Linked DNA regions of Homo sapiens: all the other regions are linked to region 1. The links come from fine-mapping of genetic effects on gene expression. A gene starts in region 1. Each other region holds a variant in brackets. All regions are shown on one strand. Distances are from middle to middle. Region 1 holds the start of BCAM (basal cell adhesion molecule (Lutheran blood group)). Region 2 overlaps ERCC2 (ERCC excision repair 2, TFIIH core complex helicase subunit). Region 3 has its middle 24 kb from the start of CEACAM20.

Region 1 (10,388 bases):
AGCCCTCTGGGAGAGATCGGGGGAGGTGGCAGTCAGCCAGGCCATAGCCCCGCCACCCACCCCAGCCCACGTCCCGCCGCGCTCCTGCGCTGCTCACCTGGGTTCATCTCTACGGGCACCTCCAGGCGCTGCCCGTTGCGATACCACGTGATCTTGGGGGCCGGGTTCCCGTTCCGGCTGTTGCAGGTGGCGATCTGAGGCAGACACGGGCATGGCCCTGGGCTTGGAGCTGGGACTCTGAAGTCGGGGCTCCTCTCTCAGGAGTTCTCCCCACTCAGACTCATGAGCCGGGCTCCTAACTCCCGACTCTCCCAGGACCCAGGAGTCCAAATTCCTAGTCCCCGACTCAGACTAAAGAGTCCAGGCCTCCAGCACCATCCTCCAGGGACCAAGGATTCTGGGTCCCCCAGCTCTCTCCTTCCTAGGACACAGGAGTCTTCCCCCTCTGCCCTTCCTTTCTTTTTTCTTTTCTTCTTCTTTTTTTTTTTTTTTTTGAGACGGAGTATTGCTCTGTGGCCCAGGCTGGAGTGCAGTGGTGTGATCTTAGCTCACTGTAGCCTCTGCCTTCTGGGTTCGAGTGATTCTCCTGTCTCAGCCTCCCGAGCAGCTGGGATTACAGTTGCACACCAACACACCCAGCTAATTTTTGTATCTTTAGTAGAGACGGGGTTTCATTATGTTGGCCAGGCTGGTCTGGAACTCCTGACCTCAGGTGATCCGCCTGCCTCTGCCTCCCAAAATGCTGGGATTACAGGCATGAGCCACCTCGCCTGGCCTTACCCCTCCTCCTTTATTACCCAGGGGTCCCCAGCCCCTCCTCCCTCAGACCCAGGAGTCCAGGGCCCTGTCCCCTCCTCCTCCAGGACCCTGGGGCCAAGGTCCACCCGAGAGGTACCTCCTGGGCAGAGTCCTCCATCACAGACAGTGTCCCTTTGTTGGGGGAGACCTCAGTGGCCTCTGGCTTTGCTGTGAAAAAGACGTTCACGTCAGGAGCCCCTGCCCTGCGCCCCTCCCTGCCTGCCTCCCTTCGGGGGATGCCCGAGGACACTTACCAAACACGTTGAGCCGCGCAGTGGCCTCAGCAGTGCCTGCCGCCCCTGCCCTCACCACGCACACGTAGTCTCGCTCGTCGCCCACCTGGGCCTCAGCCAGCACCAGGCGCCCCTGGGAGTCCAGCTGGTATGGGGGACTGCGGCCCCGGGTGTCGTGCATTGTGACCTGGAGCTCAGAGCCCTGCATCTCAGCCGAGGCTAGGCGGGGGCGAGCTCCCGAGCGGTCGGTCTGTGGGCGCGGGGCAGGCTCTCAGCTCCGGGTGTCCCAGCGCTCCTCAGTCTCTCTCTCTCTGGGTCCTTTCTCTCTGCAGCTCCTGGCTCTGCCTCTTTTCCTCTTGTTATGGGTCTCCCTGGTCCCTCTGTCCCTCCCCACCTTCTCCTGCCCCCATTCCCTATCAGTTCTTGATTTTTCCTGTCTCCTTTTCTCCATCTCATTCCGGTCCCATCCCTTCTCCTCTTGGTCTCTCCCTCTCCCGATTGTCTCTCATTTTCTTTCCTCTTTTTTTTTGAGATAGAGTCTTGCTCTGTCGCCTGGCTGGAGAGCATTGGCTCGATCTCGGCTCACTGCAACCTCTACCTCCCAGGTTCAAGCGATTCTCCTGCCTCAGCCTCCTGAGTAGCTGGGATTACAGGCACATGCCATCACGCCCAGCTAATTTTTGTATTTTTAGTAGAGACGGGGTTTCACCATGTTGGTCAGGACAGTCTTGATCTCTTGACCTCGTGATCCACCCGCCTCGGCCTCCCAAAGTGCTGGGATTACAGGCGTGAGCCACCGTGCCTGGCTTCTGCTTTCTTGATGTCTGTCTCTGTTCTCTCTCTCAAGAGCCCGCAGTCCAGAGCAGGTCAATGTCATTCTAGACTTGGCTGTGCCTAGACACGGGGCACCTTGCAGATCCCTTCCCCTCAGTGGGACTCAGTGACCCCATCTGTAACAAGGAGTGTGGCTTGGTGGATCTCTACAGGCCTTAGGCACTGATGAGAGAATGAACCTTTGCTGCCCTGCTGTGCCCTGACTCCAGGCCCCCCAGCCCCAAGCACTCACAAGGAACCATTCCAGCATATAATGGTCGTGGGTTCCCGTAGGGGTGCAGTCCAGAATGACAGACTTTCCTCGCATCACCTCCACCAGCGGGGGTACAGACAAGCGCACCTCCGCCTGGGCATCTGCAAGAGAGCAACTGAGCTATCATCCACCACACCAACAGGAAGAGCCCTCCAGACAGGGTCCCCTCTCCCCCAGGACACAAGCGTCCAGGTCCCAGCCCCTCCTCCCTCAGACCCAGGAGTCCAGGTGCCAGCCCCTCCTCCCTCAGACCCAGGAATCTGGGCCCCTGTCCCCTCCTCCCTCAGACTCAGGAGTCTAGGCCCCAGCCCCTCCTCCCTCAGACCCAGGAGTCTAGGCCCCAGCCCCTCCTCCCTCAGACCCAGGAGTCCAGGCCCCAGCCCCTCCTCCCTCAGACCCAGGAGTCTAGGCCCCAGCCCCTCCTCCCTGAGATCCTTTCGCCCTCCATCCCTTCTCCCTGCATCTCTGGGTCTCAAATCCATCTCTCCCTGCACTTGCAGAGCTCAGGGCTCCTCCTCTGGGCTGCACAGGGCCCTGTGGCCTCCGCTGAACACTCCTGGGGTAATACTGCACCAGCCTTTGCTTATCCCAACAGAGCACACGCCACCCCCCAGGGCAGGGCCAGGCCTGGCTCAGCCATTTGCCTCCAGCACCCTGGGCAGGGCCACCTCTGTGATGATGGATAAATGTTTCTCTCCATCCTGGTCTCCACCTTTGCGTGTGTCTCTCCTCTTGGGTCTCCATCTCTGTCCCTGTCTCTGCCTCTCTCTGCACCTGCACCACTCAGTCCCTGGGTCTCTTCCGCTCTCCCATGAGTGAGGGGCTGGGGTGTGGGCTGCGGCTGGGCCCGGAGCTTAGGCGGGATGGATGTGTGGGGGCGGTGAGGGGGGACAGGGCTGGGCAGGTTTCAGGAATGTGGGAGGGACAGGCTGGCTGAGACCTGCCCGGCCTGGAGCCAGAGCCCCCAGCCGCCTCTTGGCCCCCCTCAGTTTGATACAACAGCAAACGGGATAAGTCGAGTCATCTTGCAAAAGGATAAGGTTGAGGCCCAGGATCTTGGGAAGCTGGGCACCTGGACTCCTGGGATCAGAGGGAAGAGGAGGCTGGGGCCTGGTGGAGTAGTTATTGTAGAAAAACCACCACCCTCCCTCACCCTCTGGGCTGGCATCCTGGCATCAGCTCTCAGTGCTTCTTAGAAACTCCCTTCCCTTCTCTGCTCAATCTGGCCCAGCCCTACCCCTGGGGACCCACTGTTGACCATGAGTGTGCCAGGGGCCTGGATTCCCAAGCGCTCACCTCTGGCCCCAGCCTGTCCCCAGGGAGGGGTGACGGGGTCCAGGCTGGTGCCTAAGGCTGGGTCTGATCTGCAGACAAGTGGAGGCAGAGAGTTCCTCTCTCTTCCCCAATCTCTCTCATCTCTCTGTCCCTCTGTCCCCAGCACCCCCACCCCCACCCCCCAGCCCCCGGCCTCCTCTCCTTCTATCCTCATGCAGGTGTGTAAATGTAGCTGAGGCCCCAGGAAGGGGGCCTGTCACTTGGAAACACTTTGTTCCACTGTCACTGCCCGGGGCTGGTGCTCCAGCCCTTTCCTGAGGGAGGCGGGTTCTTTATACTGGACTCTGGAAACTCCTAAATACATGTGGATCGCTGGTGTGGGGACACATGGTCCTCGCTTCTCTAAGGGGTCCCTGGACCTCTCAAAACTTGAGGACCTTTGAGGGAGAGAGCCCTGGGGTTTTGATCCTCTGTGCCCTGGGGGAAGCTATTCTAGCCACTGGAGGCCTGGACTCCTGGGTCTGAGGAAAGAGGGGCTGGGGGCCCAGATTCCAGGGTCTGAGGGAGGAGGCAGGTGGGACCCAGATTCCAGGGTGCTGAGTGGGAAGGGGGCTGACTTCTCTGGTTGTCTCTGATCCACCGCCTGGGTATCCCCAGCTCTCCTGCCTGGCTGTCCCCAGATCTCTCTCACTGGAAGGCGTACCTTCCAACACTCCCATATCCCTCCTCCTTGGGGTCCCCACATTTTGCTTCCTGGGGTCAGGGTAAAGCCCTTTCTCCTCGCTTTCCCGGGGTCCCCAGGGGCCTCTCCCCAGTCCCACCTTGCCCTCAGCCCGAGCCATACCTGGGTGCGCCGCCAGCAGGACTGCGAGCAACAGCAGCCGCGGGGCCCCGCGCGCCTGGGCCGGTGCGTCCGGGGGCTCCATGTTCACGGCGGCGGCGGAGACTGAGCCCGGGCTGCAGCTCGGCCGCTGCGGGGCTGGGAGCCAGAGGCCCCGCCCCCGGCAGCCCCGCCCCGCCCCGCCCTCCAGGCCCCCCTCGTCCCCCGATGCCCGGGCGCGGGGCCAGGACCTCCCACTGCCCGGAGCGGACCTCCCAGTGCACGGGGCCAGGCTCGGGGCTCGTCCGCCCCCAAGCCTAGAGCTGTCCGGGCTTACTGACCAGCGCCTGCAGCGGGGGGCCTGATCGACCAGCGTAGCCAGTGACCCGAGCTGGGATCTCACCAGGCAATCGCGGACCTTCTCCTCGTTATTCTGACCAGGGGCCTTGGGGACTCGTCCCCACTGTGACCAGCAGCCTGGGCTGGCATCGTCGATTTTAACCAGAGGACCCCACTGCAACCTGTGGCCTGCGATGGCCTCTCCCAGTGTAACTAATGGCCCCAAGCGTGCCGTCCGAGTGGCCTGCACTGGCCTCTCCCAGTCCAACCAGTGACCCCCGCAGCCTGACCAGTGGCCCCCAGCAGCTGCTCCCAGTATGCCCGGAGATGTTTTCCCCTGTGGTCAGTGCTCTGGGCTGCTTTCCTCGTCTGACCAGTAGCCTGGAATCAACCGGTTTAATCTCTTATTTTCAATGGTCTTCAAATCCAGGTCCTCCTAGGCCGCTTCGATGATGGGGCTGGGGGTGGGGTACGGGGTGCCCTCTCTGCTTGCTCACCCATGGAAGGCCCTCCCACTCTTCCCCCTATCCAGGGAATCCCAGGAATGCCACCCTCCCTTCCTCCTTCCCGCTCTCTCCTTCATTCCCTCCCAACCTTGTGGGGAAGGGAGGAGTCAGACTGGCCAGAGCAGGTGAGGAGGGCAGGGGAAGAGGCCAGGGCACCTGCGGGAAGGGGGAGGAGTCCAGCCACTGCTAGGAAGCGTGGGTCACAGGTCCGACTGCCCAAGGCCCCTACAGGCCAGGTCAGACTGGGACAAAATCCCCCACTAGATGTCACTAGTTGCCCAGGACAGTGGTCAGAACGTGGGAGGGTGGGGGGTCGCTGGCCACACTGGGAGAGGTTACCCAAGCTTCTGATCAGCCTGGGGGTTGAGGTAGCCCTGGAGCTGGGCTTTGCCTGCTCAGACATACAGAGAAGGCTTGGATTACAGGTCAGCCTGGGAGTTATTAGACTGGTCAAGGTTACTTTATCCATTGGTCATACAGGAGACCAACGTTTTTTTTGTTTGTTTGTTTTGTTTTTGACAGGGTCTCGCTCTGTTGCCCAGCCGGGAATGCAGTGGGCGCAATCATAGCTCATTCAAACCTCAACCGCCTGGGCTCAAGCAATCCTTCCACTTCAGCCTCCCAAGTAGCTGGGACTATAGGCTTGTGTTACCATGTCCAGCTAATTTTTGTATTTTTTTGGTAATAGAAACAGGGTATTACTATGTTGCCCAGGCTGGTCTCCAACTCTTGGGCTCAAGTGATCCTCCTGCCTTCCAAAGTGCTGGGATTACAGGCATGAGCCACTGCATCCATCCTACAGAGCAACTGTTACATTGGGAAAGACCTTTTAGGATTAACTGTACCATCCCCTCCTCCAGGAAGTCCCCTCTGCCTTCCCTGGCTGGGTCAGGTTCCCCCTCTGGGCTCCCCCACCTGAGCCCGGCACACTCTGGGGGTCCCTGGCTGGGGATAGGTCTGTCTCCCTCAGTGGACTGTGAGCCTGTGAGGGCAGGGCCAGGGATGTCTTGATCACTGTGGTGAGCTAAGGGCTCCTCCCCTGGGCACCCCGCCCAGCACAAGACCAGACACAGTGCAGGTGCTCAGGGAAGGTTTGTTTGCAAGGCACACAAACTCACGTGCAGATTCCATCCAGACTGGAGCATCCCAGGATATACAATACAAACTCACTCATGGGGAATGCGGCGGCACTCCAAGACAGTCCCAGGTGCTGTCAAGCTCACACACTGTGAGCACCGACACCCATACCCTAGCTCTTCTGTCCCCAGCCTGTGCACCTTCTGTTTGGGCTGGACCCTGGTACATGCCCTCTCAGCAGCCATCGCCCACTTCCACCTCCCTCAAGAACCCAGCCAGCTGAGGCTGGGCGCTGTGGCTCATGCCTGTAATCCCAGCACTTTAGGAGGCCGAGGTGGGTGGATCACCTGAGGTCAGGAGTTCGAGACCAGCCTGACCAACATGGTGAAACCGCATCTCTACTAAAAATACAAAATTAGCTGGGCGTGGTGGCACATGCCTGTAATCTCAGCTACTCAGGAGGCTAAGGCAGGAGAATCGCTTGAATCTGGGAGGTGGAGGTTGCACTGAGCTGAGATCGTGCCACTGCACGATGTTGCCTGGGCAACAAGAGTGAAATTCTGTCTCAAAAAAAAAAAAAAAAAAAAGAAGAACCTAGCCATCTGAGGTTCTGGGTGAGGGAGGAGAACTCTATGGCATGTGTATGAAGGAGAAAAGTCAGAAACACCAAAACAGCAGCCGTGGACCCTTGCAGACTTGCAGAAACTAGTCTTGTAACATCATCTGCCTTTGTCCCCTGTAATTTATTCTCACAAAACAGCCTGAAGGATTCCTTTTACATGTGAATCAACTCATGTCACTCTTCTGCCCCAGGGTCCTCCCATGACTTCTGTCTCACTTAGGGTAAAAGCTGAGGTCCAGGTCAGCCGCAGGGACTCACGTCTGTAATCCCAGCAATTTAGGAGCCTGAGGCGGGAGGACTGCTTGAGCCCGGGAGTTTGAGACCAGCCTGGGCAACATAGCGAAACCCCGTCTCTACAAAAAAATATAAAAATGGCCAGTCATGGTGGCCCATGCCTGCAATCCCAGCACTTTGGGAGGCCGAGGTGGGTGGATCACCCGAGGTCAGGAGTTTGAGACCAGCCTGGCCAAAATGGTGAAACCCCCTCTCTACTTAAAATAAAAAAATTAGCCAGGGGTTGTGGCAGGTGCCTGTAATCCCAGCTACTCGGGAGGCTGAGGCAGGAGAATTGCTTGAACCTAGGAGGTGGAGGTTGCAGTGAGCTGAGATCATGCCATTGCACCCCAGCCTGGGTGACAGAGCGAGACTCAGTATCAAAAAAAAAAAAAAAAAAAAAAAAAGTTCTAATTCCATCCATGCGGCCGCAGGTGTATATCCTCACATATTTTAACTAACAAGGCTTATCTTTTCTGAAACTCTGGGCTCAAGCGATCCTCCTACCTCAGCCTCCCAAAGTGCTGGGATTATAGGTGTGGGCCACCACGGTTGGCCAGACTTACCTTTTCATTGTTTTTGAGACAGAGTTTCACTCTTGTTGCCCAGGCTGGAATGCAATGGCGTGATCTTGGCTCACTGCAACCTCCGCCTCCCAGGTTCAAGCAATTCTCCTGCCTCAGCCTCCCAAGTAGCTGGGATTACAGGCATGCGCCACCATGCCCGGCTAATTTTGTGTTTTTAGTAGAGACAGGGTTTCACCATGTTGGCCAGGCTGGTTTCGAACCCCTAACCTCAGGTGATCCACCAGCCTCAGCCTCCCAAAATGTTGGGATTACAGGCGGAAGCCACAGTGCCTGGCTGACTTATCTTTTCTTGACCTTTTTTCCCATTATTTTTCACACAGTGTGTGACGATTAACTTTACAACTAGCTCACAGCTTGTGGAATATGGGGAGAATGACATATTTGGAGGGGAATGGTTCTTCCCTGATTCCAGTCTCAGATCTGGAAAATGGAACTATTGAAATTTTTTGTATTGGGTGGCAGTGTGAATGCATTTTTTGATTGTACAATGAGAGACGGTTGTGCGGGGAAAGTTTCGATAAGAACTTCTGCAAAGGGCCTATTGATATTGAACATTCAAAGCCAGCTGTGGTGGCTCATACCTACAATCCCAGCACTTTGGGAGGCTGAGGCAGGTGGATCGCTTGAGCCCAGGAATTTGGGACCAGCCTGGGCAACATGGCAAAACCCTGTATCTACAAAAAATACATATTAACCGGGGGTGGTGGTGGTTTGTGCTCGTAGTCCCAGCTACTCAGGAGGCTGAGGTGGGAGGATCGCTTGAACTGGGGAGATCAAGGCTGCAATGAGCCAAGATCGTGCTACTACACTCCAGCCTGGGTGAAAGAGTGAGACCTTGTCTAAAAAACAAAACACAACAAAAAAAACCAAAGGAGCGGGCTATAGTACATATTTTGCGGGAAGGATTACCTAGCATCTGCAGCTCCTTCCCACATTTAAGGAAATTCCTACTGTCTGAAAGCCTCTGTTGCCCACTCTTGAAGCCAACAAGAATGGATGTTTGCTTTCCTGCATCTGTTGGAGCTAAGGTGACTTAAGCTTGGCAAATCCTTCCACACTTTTGAATATCAGGAATTGGCCACCTCTTCCAGCCATGCATGGCAGCTGGGACAGATTCTGTTTTCCAAAGACGGCTACAACAATCTCTTTCTTTTTTCTTTTTGAGACAGGGTCTTGCTCTGTCACCCAGGTTGGAGTGCAATGGCATGATCATGGCTCACTGCAGCCTCGTCCTCCAGGGCTCAAGTGATCCTCTCACCTCAGCCTCCTGGGTAGCTGTGAGTACAGGTGTGCACCACCACTCCTAGTTAATTTTTTTTTTTTTGTAGGAATGGGGTTTTGCCATGTTGTGACAGTGTCTTTCATCCCATGTGTGTTTCCACAATGAGAGCTTGATACTCTTTCCATCAAGAGCTGGGGTCTATGGCACCCTCCTCTCAAATCTGTGCAGTTTGGTGACTTGCATACAACCAACAGAATTCAGCTGAAGTGAAGTTGCGGAACTCCCAAAATGAGCTAGAAAAGGCCATGCAGCTTCTGCCTGGGTCTTCAGCGGCCATATAAAGTTTGACTACCTTGAGGCAGCCATGCTGTGGGGAAGCCCAAGCTGGCCAGTGCAGAGACTATATGGTGGGGGAGGCCCTGAGACCACAGAGAGATGCCCACTTGTCCAGCACCCCCAGCCGCCCTGTGGCAAGCATCACTGATTGCACTGTTTGTTTGCATCCTGAGCCAAAACAAACCAGCCACGCCTTTCTTCAAATCCCAGCCCACAGCAACCATGAGACTTAATGCAATGATTGCTGTCATTTGCGGCTAAGTTGTGAAGTGATTTATTACCAGCAACAGCTAATGAGAAGAGCAGCCATATCCTATTTCTGGGGCAGCAGAGGCAGCGAGACAACTACAGTGTCTAGTGGCCATCGCCAGCATGGCCTCATCAGACCGGTTCCGTGGTGTCACTGTGGCTGGGTTACCATTGCTGGCCAGTTGCCAGGATTCTTCCTGCTCACTTTCCAATCCTGATTCCCCAGTTCACTCCTGGGATTCTGTGAGTGACCCCAAATCCTCTCAATAAATTCCCTTTCTGCCCCTGAGGTAGCATCTGTTGCTTGGAACTAAATCTGTGAAAATTCTCTTTCTTTCTTTTCTTTCTTTCTTTCTTCCTTCCTTTCTTTTCTTTCTCTCCTTCCTTCCTTCCCTCCTTCCTTTTCCTCTCTCTCCCTCCCTTCCTTCCTTTTTTTTTTTTTTTTTTCAGAGTTTCGCTCTTGTTGCCCAGGCTGGAGTGCAATGGCACAATCTCGGCTCACTGCAACCTCCATCTCCTGGGTTGAAGTGATTCTCTTGCCTCAGTCTCCCGAGTAGCTGGGATTACAGGTGCCCGCCACCATGCCTGGCTAATTTTTGTATTTTTAGTACAGACGGGGTTTCACCATGTTGGGGTGAAAGTATAGACGGGGTTTCACTCCTGACCTCAGATGATCCACCTGCCTCGGCCTCCCAAAGTGCTGGGATTACAGCTGTGAGCCACTGCGCCCGGCCCTGATACATTCTTTCAAGCCTCCTGTCCATTGGAATACTTTTTCATCATTTAAAAAATTTTCTTTTCTTTTTTGAGACAGGGTCTTGCCATGTTGCCCAGGCTGGAGTGCAGTGGTGCAATCTCGGCTCACTGAAGCCTTGACCTCCCAGGCTCAAGCCATCCTCCCACCTCAGCCTCCTGAGTAGCTAGGACTTACAGGCATGTGCCACCATGCCTGGCTAATTTTTCC
Region 2 (8,735 bases), 550 kb before region 1:
CCTGAGGGCAGGGGCGTCCCCATGGAGTAGTCTGGGCGCATTTTGGGGGAGTCAGTCTCTTGAGGCACAGGGCAGGCAGAGAATGACCAAGGGATACGAGGGGGCTTTTCCTTTGGGTAAGTCATGGGTCTTCTTTGAACTGCAGTTTCCTCCTTTGTAAAATGGCCAAGGAGTCGGGTCTTTACTTCACAGGGTTCTTTGGTGGGTTAATGAGAGAGCAGCGAAGCCAATCACCTACCCTGCCCTGAGCACTAAGGAGGAGCTAAGCCCTTTATGTTCCTTACCTCAGTTGCACCCCCAGTACAGCATCCCCACCCTGCAAATGAGGACACTGGGACTCCCAGAGGGGAAGCCTTTGCCCAGAGCCACACAGCACTGTGCCCGGTAGTTGGGGCTTGAAGCCATGCCTGTGGGCTCCAAAGGCCCTGGCTGCCCTGCCTCTGTGGGTGAGGCCACCTTCCATGTGGGTTTGCCCATCTTCCCCAGGATTGGAGACTTGTGAGGGCAAAGAGGGGATCTCAGTCACTCAACACACATTCCCCAAGTGCCTGCTTCATGCTGGGGACACAGCCGTAGAGGCTCCATGGCCCAGTGGAGGGGACAGACTCATCCTCAGCTAGCGACCAGCCGGGGTAGGCGCCTGGGGTTAGAGGAGCCAGGCTGGGAGGGCTGACGTGCGGGAGGCAGGTTTGCAAGTGTGACTGCCCACCTGGCTTCAAAGCCAGCTGCTCTATGACCCTGCCTCGGCCCTGCCTGTGTGTGGTTGTGGCCGAGTGGCCCTGCACATGCGTGAGTGTGTGGACGTGGTATCCGTGGGACTCTGTGGGATGTGGGTGTTGACTGCATTCCTCTGTGAGCCCATGGGGTTCCGACACCGTGTGTGTCCCCATAGGTGCGTGAGAGGCAGTGGGAGAGGCTCTGGGTGTGAATGCGTGACCATGTGGCCATGCGGGATTAATGCCATGACTGGGGGGTTCTGGGTGTGATTGTGCGTCTCTTGTTTTGATCAGAACCCACTTAGGGCCAGGTGCAGTGGCTCACACCTGTCATCCCAGCACTTTGGGAGGCTGAGGCAGGTGGATCACGAGGTCAGAAGTTCAAGACCAGCCTGGCCAACATAGTGAAAGTCCGTCTCTACTAAAAGTACAAAAATTAGCTGAGTGTGGTGGCAGGCACCTGTAATCCCAGCTACTTGGGAGGCTGAGGCAGGAGAATCATTTGAACCCAGGAGGCGGAGTCGAGATGGTACCAGTGCTCTCCAGCCTGGATGACAGGGCAAGACTCCATCTGAACAAAGAAAAAAAAGAAAAAGAAAAAAAGAACCCACTTAGGAGGTCGTGCTAGCAGGTGTGACAAGTGACCACATGACTCTGGAGTGTCTGATTATTGCTCTGTCTGTGCCATTATGCGGCAATGGCTATTTGTGACATGCAGGTGTACAGCGTGGGGGTGCAAGTTTCCAAAACAGGCCCAGTGCCCACCCTCACTGAGTGCTCATTGGCTGGGGAGACAGGCACGTGACCGTCGTGATGGCGGAGGCAGGGCTGCTGGTCCTGCTCATGCTTCCGTCTGCCCCCCGACCCCGTCTCTCCTCCCCGCCAGATTCTGTGCTGAACGCCTCCGGTCCCTGCTGCATACTCTGGAGATCACCGACCTTGCTGACTTCTCCCCGCTCACCCTCCTTGCTAACTTTGCCACCCTTGTCAGCACCTACGCCAAAGGTAAGCTCACCTTTTTCTGTCCCTGCTGGGCCTCCTAGCAGCTGGAATCAGGGTCCCAGCAGGGTCTAGAGGGTTGTTGGCAGGACACACAGGGCTTTGTGGGGTTTGGCTTGGAAGTGTGGGCCCTATTTTGAAGGCAGTGGGGAGCCATACATAGTTCTTGAGTAAGCCTTGTGCTCAGATTTACATTTTCACAGACTTCCTCGGGCTGCAGAGTGGAGAAGGATGGCATGGGCAGTGGTAAGGGAGGAGGCCAGAGAAATTCTATGGGGTCAGCTCACACTAGAGGGCACGGTAATGAGTTGATCTTTGTGCTCCTGAGGGCACTGGGGAGCCATGGCAGATTCTAGCAAGCAAGGTGCCAGGTCAGATTTGTGCTTTTTTTTTTTTTTTTGAGACGGAGTCTTGCTCTGTTGCCAGGCTGGAGTGCAGTGGTGTGATCTTGGCTCACTGCAGCCTCTGCCTCCTGGGTTCAAGCAATTCTCCTGCCTCAGCCTCCCGAGTATCTGGGACTACAGGCGCATGCCACTATACCCAGCTAATTTTTGTATTTTTAGTAGAGGTGGGGTTTCACCATGTTGGCCAGGACGGTCTCGATCTCCTGACCTCATGATCCACCGGCCTCGGCCTCCCAAAGTGCTGGGATTACAGGCGTGAGCCACCATGCCCGGCCCAGAGTTGTGCTTTGGAAAGATTTCTTCTGGGTGCTGAACGCAGTGGCTCATGCCTGTAATCCCAGCACTTTGGAATGGTTAGGCAGGCAGATGACCTGAGGTCAGGAGTTCGAGACTGGCCTGGTGAACATGGCGAAACCCCATCTTTACTAAAAATACAAAAATTAGCTGGGGCCAGACATGGTGGCTCACGCCCATAATCCCAGCAGTTTGGGGGGCCGAGGTGGGCAGATCACTTGAGGTCAGGAGTTTGAGACCAGCCTGACCAACATGGTGAAACCCTGTCTCTACTAAAAATACAACAATTTGCCAGGTGTGATGGTGGGCTCCTGTAATCCCAGCTACTTGAGAGGCTGAGGCAGGAGAATTGCTTGAGCCCAGGAGGCAGAGGTTACAGTGAGCCAAGATTGTGGCACTGCACTCCAGCCTGGGCAACAGAGCAAGACTTCGTCTCAAAAAAAAAAAAAAGGCCGGGCGTGGTGGTTTACGCCTGTAATCCCAGTACTTTGGGAGGCCGAGGCGGGCGGATCTCGAGGTCAGGAGATCAAGACCATCCTGGCTAACATGGTGAAACTCCGTCTCTACTAAAAATACAAAAAAAGTTAGCTGGGCGTGGTGGCGGGCGCCTGTAGTCCCAGCTGCTCAGGAGGCTGAGGCAGGAGAATGGCGTGAACCCAGGAGGCAGAGCTTGCAGTGAGCCGAGATCGTGCCACTGCACTCCAGCCTGGGCGACAGAGCGAAGACTCCGTCTCAAAAAAAAAAAAGAAAAAAAATAGGCCTGGCATAGTGGCTCATGTCTGTAATCCCAGCACTTTGGGAGGCTGAGGTGGGTGGATCACCTGAGGTCAGGAGTTCGAGACCAGCCTGACCAATATGGTGAAACCCCGTCTCTACTAAAAATACAAAAATTAGCTGGACGTGGTGGCACGCACCTATAGTTCCAACTACTCAGGAGCCTGAGACAGGAGAATTGCTTGAACCCGGGAGGCGGAGGTTGCAGTGAGCCGAGATCACACCAGCTGCACTCCAGCCTGGGTGAAAATGAGAGTCTGTCTCAAAAAAAAAAAAAGAGTTCTTCTGGCAGGGACTAGAGGCAGGAGACTGGGTGGCAGGCAGGGACCTGAGCAGGAGGGGAGGGGCCTTGGCCAGGATGTGGCCATGGGGAGAGAGAAAGGTATGGTTTGGAGAGAGATGTGGGAGGTAGAGAGGCTGGGATATGGGGAGCGTGGTGCCTGGGTTTTGGGACCAGGGACAAGAGGAGTAGAGGCTGATGTTCAGATTTTCAGGTTACGAGAGAGGGACATCATTCTGGAGGCTTTATGGGCCGGTGTTCCCTCCCCATCCTCAGCGTGAAGCTGACCAGGGGCTCAGTCTGCCTCCTGGGGGTTTCTCCTGTACCCAGGAAACCAGATCGGGCCTCATGTCCTGCGGCAGGGCCTGACAGGAGGATGGAGATCTGGGCCCTTGCCCTGGGGCTGGGTAGCGAGGCCGGCTGGCTGCTGCTTCTGCCTCTGTCTCTCTGTCCTGCCCCATCTTCCATCCCTACCTTTGTCATTCTCTACCCACTATTTCCCATCTGCCAACACCTCATGGTCTTTCACCTGGATCATCCTTCCTCATCTTCCTCATCCCCCAACCACCTCCCCCTCATCCTTAGGTTCTCAGCTTAGTAGAGATGTCTTGTCCTCCAGGAAGCCCTCCCTGACCCCCAGGCTGAGTCAGGCCCCTCCTCTGGGCACCTCTGTCCCAGCACTGCCCACTCTCAGTCATCACTATCTGAGGACAAGTCTGTCTCCTACTGGACTGCGAACCCATGCGAGCAGGGGCAAGGCTGGCTTGGTCACCACTGTGTCCCCAGCACAGAGGACTTGATTTTTTTTCACTGTGTGAAACCGAATATGTAAATTCATTCATTCATTTATTTCTTCAACAAACAGGCCAGGCTCAGCACTGTGGAAGCAGCAGGAACCAAAAAAGATCTCATCCCTAACCCCCCAGAACTTATATTCCAGATGGGAAAACCAGTAGCAAAGATGCAGCCAAATAAACAAGGAAATAATTCCAGAAAGTGACAGTTATCATGAAAAAAAATACATTGTTGTGTTGGAATATGTCTGCGTAGAAAAGGTGGCTGGGGAGGGCCTCTCGGAGGGGCTGACTTTTGAGCAGTCTCAGATGACCAAATGGAGCAGCCTTGGGAGGTTTTCCAGGCCACATGGGACCAGCAAGTATAAAGGCCCTGGGGGGACTGAGCCTGCTGATTTTTGAAGGTCAGGCACCAGGCCACTGGAGGCATGTGGGGGCCATGGGAGGCTTCTTGGGGCGGGGAGGTGACATGGCTGGACTCAGGGACTCAGGTTTCCCTAGGGTCCCTCTGGCTGCCGTGAAGCGAGCAGGGGATGATGGGTCCAGGCAGGAGGTGATGGTGGCTGGCCCCGCGTGGGGTCGGGGGCAGTGGGCGAATTGCAGGTAGGTTTTGGAGGCAGAGCTGCCCGGCTTTGCTGATGGCTTAGGTAGAAAGGTCGTGGGAGGCCAGGTGCAGTGGCTCATACTTGTAATCCTGGCACTTTGGGAGCCTGAGGCGGGTGGACCACTGCAGGTCCCCCATCTCTACTAAAAATGTAGAAATTAGCTGGGTGTGTTGTAGGGGGGTGT[C/T]CCTATAATCCCAGCTACTCAAGAGGCTGAGGCAGGAGAATCAATCACTTGAACCCAGGAGGCTGAGCTTGCAGTGAGCCGAGATCATGCCACTGCACTCTAGCCTGGGCGACAGCGCGAGGCTCCATCTCAAAAAACAAAAACAAGAAAAGGTCATGGGAGAAAGCTTGAGGCTCTGGCTCCTGGCTTTGGCGTGGGTGCTGGGCAGCCCATGCGGTGCTGGGAGAGTGAGCAGTGGGCGGGGCTGTGGGCTCTCTACTTGGGATCCTTCGTGAAAGTTTGCACAGGTGTGGGCCCGAAGCGGACAGGTTGGGGTGTATTTTGGACTCAGATGCCTGGTTTGGGGCTTAAGCAGTCATGTTTGGTCGCATTTACTCCCAGGCAGTACGGGGTGGAGATTGGGGTGAAGCGAGGGAGCAGGAGAGGGAATGACTGAGTGGGTGCAGCTGTGGCTGTAGTGGGGTAATCTCACCCCTCCTTGCCTGCCCTCTGCAGGCTTCACCATCATCATCGAGCCCTTTGACGACAGAACCCCGACCATTGCCAACCCCATCCTGCACTTCAGGTGGGACCCTGCCCGGTGAGGGTGTGAATGCTCTGTGGGTCGGGGGCCCAGCCCCCCGGGCCCTCACTGCCCTCATCTCTCTCCAGCTGCATGGACGCCTCGCTGGCCATCAAACCCGTATTTGAGCGTTTCCAGTCTGTCATCATCACATCTGGGGTAAGGACCCTTCCCCGTCCCCTCCTAGTCCCTGACCTCCCTCCATGGGCCTCCTGGTCCCTGCCCAGTCCTGCTGAGATCCCTCCCACTGTCCCGCCACAGACACTGTCCCCGCTGGACATCTACCCCAAGATCCTGGACTTCCACCCCGTCACCATGGCAACCTTCACCATGACGCTGGCACGGGTCTGCCTCTGCCCTATGGTGAGTGGGAGAGGCTAGGGCTGGGGCCGGGAGGGGAGATGGGGGCAAGGGGCCGCCCTCCTTCCTTGGCTTCCCCCACTGCTCAGGCAGGAGAGCTTTACAGCGAAGAGGCTGGGTTCGGGATTCAGACAGACTTAGGCTTGATTCTGCTTCTCTGTGGGCTCGACTCTCAAGCCTCAGTTTTCTCATCTGTGAAATGGGAATGTATCCTCCCTGATCTCCCAGGGTGGTTGAGAGGATTGAGAGAGAGAACTGGGGTAAACCACTTAGGTCGCCCAGGGCCTGGCACAGGTAGGCGCTTAGTCAGCATCTTAGCATCTTGCCGAGTACGTGGTCTGGCTGTGACCCAGGTAAGTGAGCCTTCCTCTCCGTCTCCGTCTCTGTAACACGTGCATGTCAACATGAGCCCTCAGTCCCTTATCTGAAGTCCCCAGGCTGGATGTGGTTTTTTGTTTTTGTTGTGCGACGGAGTCTTGCTCTGTTGCCCAGGCTGGAGTGCAGTGGCACGGATCTCAGCTCACTGCAACCTCCGCCTCCTGGATTCAGGTGATTCTGATGCTTCAGCCTCCTGAGTAGCTGGTACAGGCATGTGCCACGATGCCCAGCTAATTTTTGTAATTTTAGTAGAGACGGGGTTTCACCACGTTGGCCAGGCTGGTCTGAAACTCCTGACCTCAAGTGATCCGCCCGCCTGGTCCTCCCGAAGTGCTGGGATTACAGGTGTAAGCCACTGCGCGCAGCCATTTGTTTTGGAATTCAGAATTTTCCAGCCTTTAGAGACAAGGCCTATGCTGTGTGGTGTGTGATGCCCACAGTGGGGTCTGGGCAGCTCCCCCGAGTCAAACTCCCATTTCGGCAGTAAAAGATTGGGAAGCATCACACTAAGGAGTAAGTCAGGCCTCTGGAGAGACTCGGGGCAGGGCAGGTTTTGCTGCTTCATGAGTTTGTGCCAAACTTGAAAAAGAAATGTGTTCAGAGCTTTTGGCTTTTGGAGTTGCCTGTCAGAGGTTGTGGACCGGTAATGACCCCCACTGCATGGTGGTTGTGTGAGGTTGCCGGCTGGTGGGATGCCCGCCGGCATGGCGAGGGGTGTTCTTCGGGATCCGGCTGGCCCAGGGCCTGGGGCTGGCTAGAGTGTAGCTGCTGTTGGAGAGTGTGGACAGACTCGGGTCCGGTTCCATCTTTGCCACCTGTTTGCTGTGTGACCTTGGGCAGGCAACTCACCTTCTCTGAGCCCAGGTCATTTGTGCAATGCAGATAACAGGGTTGCTGAGGGTTCATTCAATGACACTGTGTTTATAAAAAGTTTAGAGCAGACTGGGTGTGGTGGCTCATGCTTGTAATCCCAGCACTCTGGGAGGCCAAGGCGGGATGGTCACTTGAGGCCAGGTGTTCAAGATCAGCCTGGGCAACATGGTGACACCCTGTCTCTCTTTAAAAAAAAAAAAAAAAAAAGCTTAGAACAGCACCAGCAGGTGGTCAGCACTCACGCTGGAGCAGTTGCTGCTGCCTCGCTTATCGTGACCTCTGTTGCTCTCCAGATCATCGGCCGTGGCAATGACCAGGTGGCCATCAGCTCCAAATTTGAGACCCGGGAGGATATTGGTATGCTGCCAGTGGGGCTGGTTTCTGTGGGTTCCAAGAGGGGAGGTGTATCAGTCAGGTGGGCTGAGTCATGCTGCTGTAACAAATATCCCTGGCCTTAGTTGCTCAGCCCAGAGTTTCCTTCTTGCCCGTGGTACACGTCCACTGTGAGCTGGTAGGGGCCTGCCCTGTGTCTCCTCACCTGGGAACCTCCACCGCTGGGTGTGTCAGAGGCAGCATAATGTGACAGGTGGGATCACAGTGGTCACAGTGTATTGTGCACTGGTTCCTAAGGGTGCTCCCCTGGAAGTGACACATGGCCTTTTTTTGAGACAGAGTCTTGCTCTGTTGCCTAGGCTGGAGTGCAGTGGCATGATCTCGGCTCACTGCAGTCTCTGCCTTGCGGGTTCAAGCGATTCTCATGCCTCAGCCTCCCGAGTAGCTGGGATTACAGGCCTCTGCCGCCACGCTGGGCTAATTTTTGTATTTTTAGTAGAGATGGGGTTTCGCCATGTTGGCCAGGCTGATCTCAAACTCCTGACTTCAGATGATCCACCCGCCTCGGCCTCCCAAAGTGCTGGGATTACAGGCGTGAGCCACAGCGCCCGGCCCCTTCTGCACTCATTTCATTGGCCATGGCAAATCACATAGCCAGGTGTGACTTCAGGAAGTGGCAAGGCGGGTCCTCAGACACGCCCGGGAGGAGGAGGAGGGGGATATGTGTGAAAAGCCTGACAGGCAGCCTCAGTGGGGTTTCCAGAAACTCCTAGTTCTAAGACAGAGAAGGGAGGAGGACCTGGGCCAGGAGAGGGCCCAACCTCTGACCCCTTGCAGCTGTGATCCGGAACTATGGGAACCTCCTGCTGGAGATGTCCGCTGTGGTCCCTGATGGCATCGTGGCCTTCTTCACCAGCTACCAGTACATGGAGAGCACCGTGGCCTCCTGGTATGAGCAGGTACGCCTGGCCACCCCCTCCCTGCACCTGCTCTCCTCAGTCCCTGGCACTGCACCGCTATGTCAGCTTCATTCCTCTCACACTCTGATGGTGACAGGTTTCCTGTGTGACAGGAGAGTGTGTGCAGCATGTAGGAATGGGGTGTAAGCAGCACACACCCCCATGCCCCGCCCCCAGTACATCAGGCTGAGAATGCAGATATAAGCCCCAATGTGGGCCC
Region 3 (10,388 bases), 250 kb after region 1:
GCAGTTGCTTTTCATTTTTCATTTTTCATTTTTTTTTTTGAGACAGAGTCTCAATCTACTGCCCAGGCTGGAGTGCAGTGGCATGATCTCGGCTCACTGCAGCCTTTGCCTCCTGGGTTCAAGCGACTCTTCTGCCTCAGCCTCCCCTGTAGCTGGGATTACAGGCATGAGCCACTGTGCCTGGCTAATTTTTGTATTTTTTAGTAGAGATGGGATTTCGCCATGTTGGCCAGCTTGGTCTCGAACTCCTGACCTCAGGTGATCCGCCCACCTCTGCCTCTCAATGTGCTGGGATTACAGGCATGAGCCATCGCGCCTTGCCATGATTTTTATTTTTCATTAGTGCTCATGGTATATGCTGCCCAGTGAGTTGTACCAACTACATTATTGTAACATCTGAATCAACTGTGGGCTACATTGTTTGATCAAGATTGATAGATTGCTTTATTTATTTATTCTTCTTTTACAACTATAGCCTACAGATAAACAACCATTATTACAGAGATTAAACTTGATTATGCTACATATCATATTACATGAATCACTCTGTGTCTACAAAGGCAAATTGACTGGATAAAATTCATTAAGGTGTAATGCCAAATAATTGCTTTATCATGATACAATACAATACTTATGTCTCACTTCCTTTTTTTTTTTTGAGATAGAGTCTTGCTCTGTCGCTCAGGCTGGAGTGCAGTGGCAGGATCTCTGCTCACTACAACCTCCGCCTCCCGGGTTCAAGCAATTTTCTTGCCTCAGCCTACTGAGTAGCTGGGATTACAGGCACACACCACCATGCCTGACTGATTTTTTTATTTTTAGTAGAGACGGGTTTCACTATATTGGCCAGGCTGGTCTCGAACTCCTGACCTTGTGATCTACCCACCTTACCCGCCTTGACCTCTCAAAGTGCTGGGATTACAGGCGTGAGCCACCGTGCCCAGCCTATTTTTTTTTTTTTGAGAGAGTCTCCCTCTGTTGCCTAGGCTGGAGTGCAGTGGTGCAATCTCAGCTCACTGCAACCTCTGCCTCCAGGCTCAAATGATTTTCATGCTTCAGCCTTCTGAGGAGGTGAAATTACAGGTATGCACCACCCCGCCCAGCTAATTTTGATATTTTTAGTAAGAGACGGGGTTTGGCCATGTCGGCCAGGCTGGTCTCGAACTCCTGGCCTCAAGCAATCCACCTGTCTTGCCGCCCAAAGTGATGGGATTACAGGTGTAAGCCACCATGCCTGGCCAGGTCTTACTTCTAAATTGGTTAAAATAACTCATTTATAGTATGTGAACATACTATAAATGGGAAAATCATGCTTCTGCATTTTTGGGTTTTATTGAACACTAAATTAGCTGCTTAGGAGTTGATCTTTGCCAACTCAATTATCATATTTTGTCCTGTCTTTTTTTTCCTATAATTTTTCTACTAAAATTATACCAGACTAATCATTCAATTATAATTTGGTGAGGGTTTACCTTGAGAAAATATATTTCGTGAGATTCTATTTTTTCTTTGATCTTACTTTGGTATGCCCTGACTGCTACAAAACAAGTAAGTGCTGTTGCTATACCGATAACAGAGATTTATTTGGTCCCTCAAGCTGATCAACTGAGGGATTTAGGTCTGTAACCATGTCTAGAAAAAATGCAAATGTGGGTATTTGATAATGTTTTCTTACTGTCAGTATGCATTTGGAAAGCATTCAGCATTACTTCTTGGAGTTAATTGTTTTATAGAGCTAATTATGAAGGTTTTAAGACCTCTTTGCGTAGATGTTGTTTTATTTTTTAGAATAAATTTATTCCTACACCTATTTTCCAGAAAGACACTGGTAGAATCATTCTAATAATAAGATGGAGTGGAATGAAGGGGACACTAATAGAAAATGAAAGGCCATGAAATGTAAATATACGTCTTCCTTTCAGTGGGTGTAATTTATTATTGACACACAGGACTTTTAGGACGACTGAATGATGAAAGAAGAGAAATTCTCGAAATGACTGAAAGAGAGTGGTGAGTACTTCCGCAACCCCTTCCATGAGTGTCTGTGCCTCTCTGATTTCTCTGAGTACAAGAGGATGCAAGCCCCAACTGAGGGCAGGCTGAAAATGTCAGAGAAATTAACATCCTGGGAGTGACCATTAACTAACACCAAGAAGGAATTGGTAGATATATTCCCCTGAACTTAGGGGGAACAACTCAGAGGTGGTTTTATTTTTTGTTGTTGTTGTTTTGTTTTGAGATGGAGTTTCGTTCTTGTTGCCCAAGTTGGAATGCAATGGCACGATCTTGGCTCACCGCAACCTCCGCCTCCCAGGTTCAAGTGATTCTCCCACCTCAGCCTCCTGAGTAGCTGGGATTACAGGCATGTGACAGCACGCCGGGCTAATTTTGTATTTTTAGTAGAGAGGGGGTTTCTCCATGTTGGTCAGGCTGGTCTCAAACTCCCGACCTCAGGTGATCTGCCTGCCTCAGCCTCCTAAAGTGCTGAGATTACAGGCGTGAGCCACTGCGCCCGGCCCTCAGAGGTGTGTTTTGTACCAGTTTTCAGAGGTGAGCTCCAGTTTTCTATAGAGCTAATTTTTCTATATGGCTTCCTTCTTTTCCCTTACTTACTTTCCCACACCTCTGCCAATGCTTTCTCCAAAATAAACTAATTGCACTAAGGTGTGGTGGCTCACGCCTGTAATCCCAGCACTTTGGGAGGCTGAGGCAGGTGGATCACGAGGTGAGTAGATCGAGACCATCCTGGCTAACATGGTGAAACCCTGTCTCTACTAAAAATACAAAAAATTAGCCTGGCGTGGTGGCAGGCGACAGTGCGAGACTCCATCTCCAAAAAAGTAAATAAATAAATAATAAACTAATTGCACTTACATTCTAGTGCAGAGTCTGATTCTGGGTGAACTAAGAGAGTGAATAACATTTACTATTTCAGTTTCTGTACCTCGATGTCCAAGTGTCCTCAACTGGGTTCTCTCACCAGGTCAAAATCAAGGTGTGATGTGAGTTGGCTGGGGTTTACCTGTAGGCTTTGGGAAAGAACCCATATCCAAGCTCATTCAGATGGTGGCAGAATCCTGGTTCTTTTTTTTTTTTTTTTTTTTTTTGAGATGGAGTCTCGCTCTGTCGCCCAGGCTGGAGTGCAGTGGGGCGATCTCGGCTCACTGCAAGCTCCGGCACCCACCAGCATGCCTGGCTAATTTTTTGTATTTTTAGTAGAGACGGGGTTTCACCATGTTAGCCAGGATGGTCTCGATCTACTGACCTCGTGATCCATCTGCCTCGGCCTCCCAAAGTGCTGGGATTACAGGAATGAGCCACTGTGCCTGGCCAGAATCCAGGTTCTTACAGTTGTAGGACTGAGGTCTGTTTCCTTGCTGGCTGTCATCTGCGGGTGCTCTAAGCTCTTGCAGGCCACTCTACCCTGCTCACACATTGACCCCTGCATCTTCAAAGACAGCAAGGATGCATTGAATCCTCCTTGTGTTTTGATTCTCTGACTTTCTCATCTGATCTGCTTTTAAAAGAGTCACCTGATCAGGTCAGGCCCACCCAGATGATCTGTATTTTAAGATCAGCTGACTTTGAGCTTTAATTACAAAATCCCTTCAAAGCAATACCTAGATTAGCATTTGATTGAACAATCAGGAACAGAAATCTGGAAGGACTATATTTAGAATCCTGATTACCACGCTGGCATTGGGGTTTACTCAGTTTCTTGATTCCATAGATGTATGTCTTTTACCAGATTTGGGAAACCAGCCATTATACCCACTTCCTCCTTTCCTTCTGGGTCTCCAATGACATGAATGTTGGCTCTTTTGTTAAAGTCCCACAGGTCCCAAAGTTCTGTTCTTCACTTCTTATCAGTCTATTTTCTTTCTGTTGTTCAGATTTGGTAACTTTTATCTGCACTGATTTTTATCTCTGTCATCTCCATTCTGCAGCTGGGCTCAAACATTAAGTTTTTAAAAAATTTCTGTTATTGTGCTTTTCCATTCTAAAATTTCCGTCTTGTTCTTTTTCATATCTTCTATTTCTTTGCTGAGACTTTCTGGTTTTTCACTTATTTCAAGTGTTTGTAATTGTTCATTGAAGCATTTTTATGTTGGCTGCTCTAAGATTCTTTTAAGACAATTCTAACATCAGTGTAGTGAATTCTTACAATTTTATAGAAACTCAGTATCAATTTTTGAAATGTTATTGTTTTGAGACAGGGTCGCACTCTGTCACCCAGGCTGGAGTGCAGTGGTGCAATCACGGCTCACTGCAGCCTCGAGCTCCTGGGCTCAAGTGAACCTCTCATCTCAGTCCCCCAAGTAGCTGGGACTATAGGCGTATGCCACCACACCCAGCTAATTTTTTGAAATTTTATTTGTAGAGACGGAGGTCTCACTGTGTTGCCCAGGCTGGTCTCAAACTCCTGAGCTCAAGCAATCCTCTTGCCTCAGCCTCCCAAAGTGTTGGGATTACAGATGTGAGCCACTGTGCCTGGCTCAGTATCTATTTTGAATATAAGTTGGACTTTCTCATACCATAAGAAAAGCTTAGTCACCCTTGACACAGTTTCCAGGTCTCCGCCTCCCCCCAGATCCTTAATGTGGCAGATCCAGATA[C/A]CTGCCTTACACTACCACTTCCTGTTAACCACCTCCTTATGCAACAGCTAGATATAACTCACCTGACTGTCCCCCTGACCCCCAGACCCTGCATAGGCTGTGCAGATATGCCACAGTGATCACCTCCCAGTCAGTGTGACTCCATGCAACTTGTGCCTGCTGGCTCTAAACCCAGTTAGAATTCTCTGTGGAAAACTGCCTGAGCAGTTTCCTTAGACTCCAATAAAAGCATCAGCCCACAGGTCTCTCACTTTCTCTTTCTTGCTCCCCACCCGCTGGTTGAGTGTGCGTGTCCCGACAACTCTCTTCTTCCTGTTGGCTCTGTGAGATGTGCTGCTCTGTCTTCTCCGGAATCTGTGAGTAATAAACTGCCCCTGTTATTTCATGTGTTTTGTTGTGCTGCCTCCTCTGTGTCTCACCTGACTGACACATCCAAACCTAACGTCTTTCCTGGTCAGGGCTGTCCTAAAGCATGGCTCTCTTTGTAGAAATAAACTGGACACAGGTCAGACAAAAGCCTTAAGAATGTCTGCCATTATAAACAAGTGTACTGTGGCCAGGTGTGATGGCTCATGCCTGTGATCCCAGCACTATGGGAGGTTGGGGTGGGAGGATCCCATGAGGCTAGGAGTTCAAGATCAGCCTGGCCAACATGGTGAAACCCCGTCTGTACTTAAAAAAAAAAAAAAATTAGTTGGGTGTAGTGGCATATGTCTGTAATCCCACCTACTCAGGAGGCTGAGGCATGAGAATTGCTTGAACCTGGGAGGTGGAGGTTGCAGTGAGCCAAGACCATACCACTGCGCTCCGACCTGGGTGACAGAGTGAGACTCTGTCTCAAAAACAAACAAACACACAAAAAATAAGTGTACTGTGAGAGGGACACCTGGTCACAGGTCAGACATGTAGGCATTAGGCCGACCACCAAGATAAAGAAGTAACCAGTGAAAATTACACTTTAAACATCTACAACTAAATCCCCTAGAAAACTCAAGACCAAGTTAGAAAACATCAACAACAATCCATGTCATCTCTATTAATTGTCTTTCCTCATTTAATTTCAGGAATGTCTTTCTCATTCAGTCAATTTTTTTTTTTTTTTTGTAGAGATGGGGTCTCACTATGTTGCCCACGCTGGTCTCGAACTTCTGAGCTCAAGCAATTCTCCCACCTCGGCCTCCCAAAGTATTGGGATTACATGTAGGTGTATGACAAGTGATTTTCAACAACACCCTGGACATTTTGGAAATTATGAGACGCTGGATCTCATTTAAATCTTCTGTTATAGCAGGTCTCCTCTGACATCTTGCTGGTGGGGCAAAAAGGGCACCATCTTGTTATAGCCAGTGGGGATGGAGGTCCAGGTTCCCCATTTGGCCTCTGTTGACATTCCAGGTGGGGCGGGGCAACTGTTACTCTGGGCAGTTAGCAGAGTTCAGGCTTTCCACTGAGACATCCTCTGATACCATCTTGCCCAGAAGGGGCAGAGACGCCTCGTTACCGCTCCCTAGTGGCCTCAATGGACACTGCAGGGTCGGTGCTCATTACTGCTGGGCAAGGATGACAGTCCCAGCTGCTTATTCAGCCTGGTGGAGGGGATGGGTGTCTCTGTACAGCTGGCAAGGGTAAATGTCCAGGCTTTTCTGTGGGATATCACAGCAGCAAAGTGATTATCTTGTAAAGATTTGCTGTCTTTAGCAAATCTTGTCAGGCTACTGCTCCTTGTCCTTTGGCTAGAGCAGGCTTTGCTTGAGCCTCTTTTGGATCTACACTCATTGGCATTTCTAGATTGCCAGGCTCTCCAGCTCCCAGTCTGGGATCTGTGAGGCGCAAAGAAAGTCCAGAAAACTCACCACCATGTGCTTTCTCCGGTCTTGAGATCCGCAGCCAGTCTGCCATATTCTCTCCTCCTTTCCGAGTCATCTATTTTTATTTATTTATTTATTTATTTATTTATTTATTTATTTATTCATTCTTTAGCTGCACCTGTGATAGACTGCTTGATATTATTCCCATAGAACAATGATGTTCTGTTCATATTTTTGAGGCTTTTTCTCTATTGCTTTATTTTATTTTATTTATTTTTCCATAGATTATTGGGGTACAGGTCGGTTTGGTTACATGAGTAAGTTCTTTGGGGGTGATTTGTGAGATTTTGGTGCACCCATCACCTGAGCGGTATACACTCCACCCTATTTGTAGTCTTTCATCCCTCACTCCCCTCCCACTCTTCACCCCAAGTCCCCAAAGTCCATTGTATCATTCTTACGCTTTTGTGTCCTCATAGCTTAGCTCCCACATATCAGTGAGAACATATGATGTTTGGTTTTCCATTCCTGAGTTACTTCACTTAGAATAATAGTCTCCAGTCTCATCCAGGTCATTGCAAATGTTGTTAATTCATTCCTTTTTATGACCGAGTAGTATTCCATCATTCATATATATATATATATATATATATATATATATGAACATATATATGAACGTATATATGAACATATATATGAATGTATATATGAACGTATATATGAACGTATATATGAACGTATATATGAACGTATATATGAACGTGTATATATGAACGTATATATGAACGTATATATATGAACGTATATATATGAACGTATATATATGAACGTATATATATGAACGTATATATGAACGTATATATATGAACGTATATATGAACGCGTATATATGAACGTATATATGAACGCGTATATATGAACGCGTATATATGAACGCGTATATATGAACGCGTATATATGAACGTATATATGAACGCGTATATATGAACGCATATATATGAACGCATATATATGAACGCATATATGAACGTATATATAAACGCATATATGAACGTATATATATGAACGTATATATGAACGTATATATATGAACGCATATATGAACGTATATATATGAACGCATATATGAACGTATATATATGAACGCATATATGAACGCATATATGAACGTATATATATGAACGTATATATGAACGTATATATGAACGTATATATGAACATATATATATGAACGTATATATGAACATATATATATATATCACAGTTTCTTTATCCACTTGTTGATTGATGGGTATTTGGGTTGGTGCCACGATTTTGCAATTGTGAATTGTGCTGCTATAAACATGCGTGTGCGAGTATCTTTTTTGTGTAATGACTTCTTTTCCTCTGGGTAGATACCCAGTAGTGGGACTGCTGGATCAAATGGTAGTTCTACTTTTAGTTGTTTAAGGAATCTCCACACTGTTTTTCATAACGGCTGTACTAGTTTACATTCCCACCAGCAGTGTAGAAGTGATAATATCCAAGGTTTTTAACTGTGCTCGGGATGGAATAGGGAAAACTGTGCCTGCTTCATTTTCTGAGATTTTTTAAAAATAGATTTTTCTACATAGTATTTATTTCACAGTGGTTATGAAGTTTGGAGTCACATAGCCCTGAGTTTAAAAATGATTCACCCACTTACAACTTGGTTTTTCACAACTCACTTACCCAACATAAACCTCAGTTTACCTGTTGTAAAATGGGATATTAATAGTCCTTACAGCACAGGGTGGTACCAGTAGTACATGAGATAATGCTTGCAGTGCAAGCAATGGAAGCAATGCAAGCAAGCATCCAGCAGTTTTTTTTCCTTTCTTCCTTTTTTTTTTTTTCATTTTTTTGAGATGGAGTCTCACTCTGTTGTCCATGCTGGAGTGTCGTGGTATGATCTCGGCTCACTGCAACCCCCACCATCCAGGTTCAAGAGATCCTCCCACCTCAGCCTCCCAAGTAGCTGGAATTACAAGTGCGTGCCACCACACCTGGCTAATTTTTGTATTTTTTAGTAGAGACGGGGTTTCACCATGTTGGCCAAGCTGGTCTCAAACTCCTGACCTCAGGTGATCCACCTTCCTCAGCCTCCCAAAGAGCTGGGATTACAGGCCTGAGCCACCACACCCAGCCGGTGATGGATATATTAATTAGCTTGATTGTAGAGATCAACTATCAAAACATCAAGTTGTACACTTTGAACATACAACATTTTTATTTGCTTATTATACCTCAATAAAACTGTTTTTAAAAGTGTAATCATTGGGTCAAAAGTTATATAAACATGTGTAACTTTCAACTTGTATTTCTAAGTTGACTTCAAGAAAGATATTTACTTCCTGTCAGGCCAGCACTTTGGGAGGTCAAGACAGGAGGATCACTTGAGCCCAGGAGTTTGAGACCAGCCTGGGCAGCACAGCAAGACCCCACCCTACAAAAGTTTTTCAAAAGTAGCTGAGGATGGTGACATGCATGGATCTCAGCTACTCAGGAGGCTGAGGCGGGAGGATCGCTTGTGCCTGGGAGGTTGAGACTATGGTGAGCCGTGTTAGTGCCACTGCACTGAAGCCTGGGCAACAGAACAAGACCCTGTCTCAAAAAAGAAAGATATTTACTAATTTGTAATCTAGGTATAAGATTCCTCACTTGAAATCTAAAGTTGGTCTTTAGAGTGCCCCATAACCCCTTGAAATTATATACAAATGTGTAGGTATTTGTGTGGTGTGTGTGTTATTGGGTGTATTTCTGGGGAGAGGATCTGGGATCTCTAGACAGTTAAGAACTTCCGGAAGTAGAGCTGTTGGCTGTGTGTGTGTGTGTGTGTGTGTGTGTGTGTGTGCTTATTGGTCATCTTGGAAACAGCAAAGCCAACGCTGGTGTTTCCAAGGTCCCCAGCCTATTCGTGCTGCTGATCATTCCTAGGGTTCCAGATCCTCCCATGTCCTATAACGCCATTCTTTCTCTTTCCTTCTCCCCAGAGAAGCTGCACCAGCCCCCGGTGGAAGCCCAGAACTTGGCCCCTCTGGAGCACACAGACTCCTTGAATTTGACATGCATTTCTCCAAACAATGACAGGACATTCCAGTGGTTTCTGAACCTTGAGGTGATTCAGGAAGGGGATGGACCAGTAATCTCCAGAGATGGCAGGGTCCTCACCATCCCCACAGTCACACGCAATGACTCCAGCACCTACCACTGTGAGGCCAGGAACCACCTGGGATCCAGGCTCAGTGAAGCCCTCGTGGTTGGCGTGGCTTGTAAGTCTGGGTTTCTTTGCTCTGACTCACCTCTGATCCACACAGAACCTCCAGCCCAACTATCTACTGGTTCATCCATGATTTATAGCTTAGCGTTTAAATCAGAGACTCTACAGACTGCCTTGGTTCAAATCCTAGTGCTTCTGTTTCTTTTATTTATTTATTTATTGAGTCATGGTCTCACTCTGTTGTCCAGGCTGGAGTGCAGTGGCTGGATCATAGCTCACTGCAGCCTTGCCCTTCTGGGCTCAAGCAATCCTCCTGCCTCAGCCACCGGAGTAGCTGGGATCGCAGGCACATGCCTCTATGCCTGGCTAATTTTTACAAGTTTTGGTAGAGACAAAGTCTCACTATGTTGCCCAGCCTAGTCTTGAACTCCTAAGCTCAAGCAATCCTCCTGCCTCAGCCTCCCAAAGTGCTAGAATTACAGGCGTGAGCCTCTGCGCCCAGCCGTCCCTGCTATTTCTTAGCTAGGTGTCCTTGGGCAAGTCACTTCACTTTTCTATGTCCTCAGTTTTCTCATCTGCAAAGTGAGAATCATAATATTATCTATCTCATTGGGTGATTATGAGGATTAAGTGAGTTAGTTCATTTAAGGAACTTAGAATAGTGCCTGGAACATAGCAAGTGCTTCTTTTTTTCTCTTTTTTTCTTTATTCTTTTCCACTACTCTG

What was found.
Region 2: its variant is fine-mapped to the expression of BCAM in stomach (GTEx, PIP above 0.99).
Region 3: its variant is fine-mapped to the expression of BCAM in whole blood (TOPMed, PIP above 0.99).

The regions. Positions count from the first base shown.
Region 1 is chr19:44,803,056-44,813,443 of GRCh38, reverse strand. BCAM (basal cell adhesion molecule (Lutheran blood group)) reads right to left here and starts at 4,341. Exons shown (of 15, transcript NM_005581.5): 1 at 4,238-4,341; 2 at 2,098-2,219; 3 at 1,053-1,281; 4 at 896-966; 5 at 98-194; 6 at 1-6. The coding sequence starts at 4,319. RefSeq lists an enhancer at 621-1,167.
Region 2 is chr19:45,354,510-45,363,244 of GRCh38, reverse strand. ERCC2 (ERCC excision repair 2, TFIIH core complex helicase subunit) reads left to right here. Exons shown (of 23, transcript NM_000400.4): 12 at 1,603-1,721; 13 at 5,546-5,615; 14 at 5,702-5,771; 15 at 5,874-5,975; 16 at 7,517-7,580; 17 at 8,394-8,515. Among named protein-coding and RNA genes, the nearest start is that of ERCC2, 12 kb to the left of the region's middle. RefSeq lists a silencer at 5,784-5,950. The variant C/T (reference allele first, on the strand shown) is at 5,051.
Region 3 is chr19:44,548,224-44,558,611 of GRCh38, reverse strand. It overlaps the pseudogene CEACAM22P. Among named protein-coding and RNA genes, the nearest start is that of CEACAM20, 24 kb to the right of the region's middle. The variant C/A (reference allele first, on the strand shown) is at 4,617.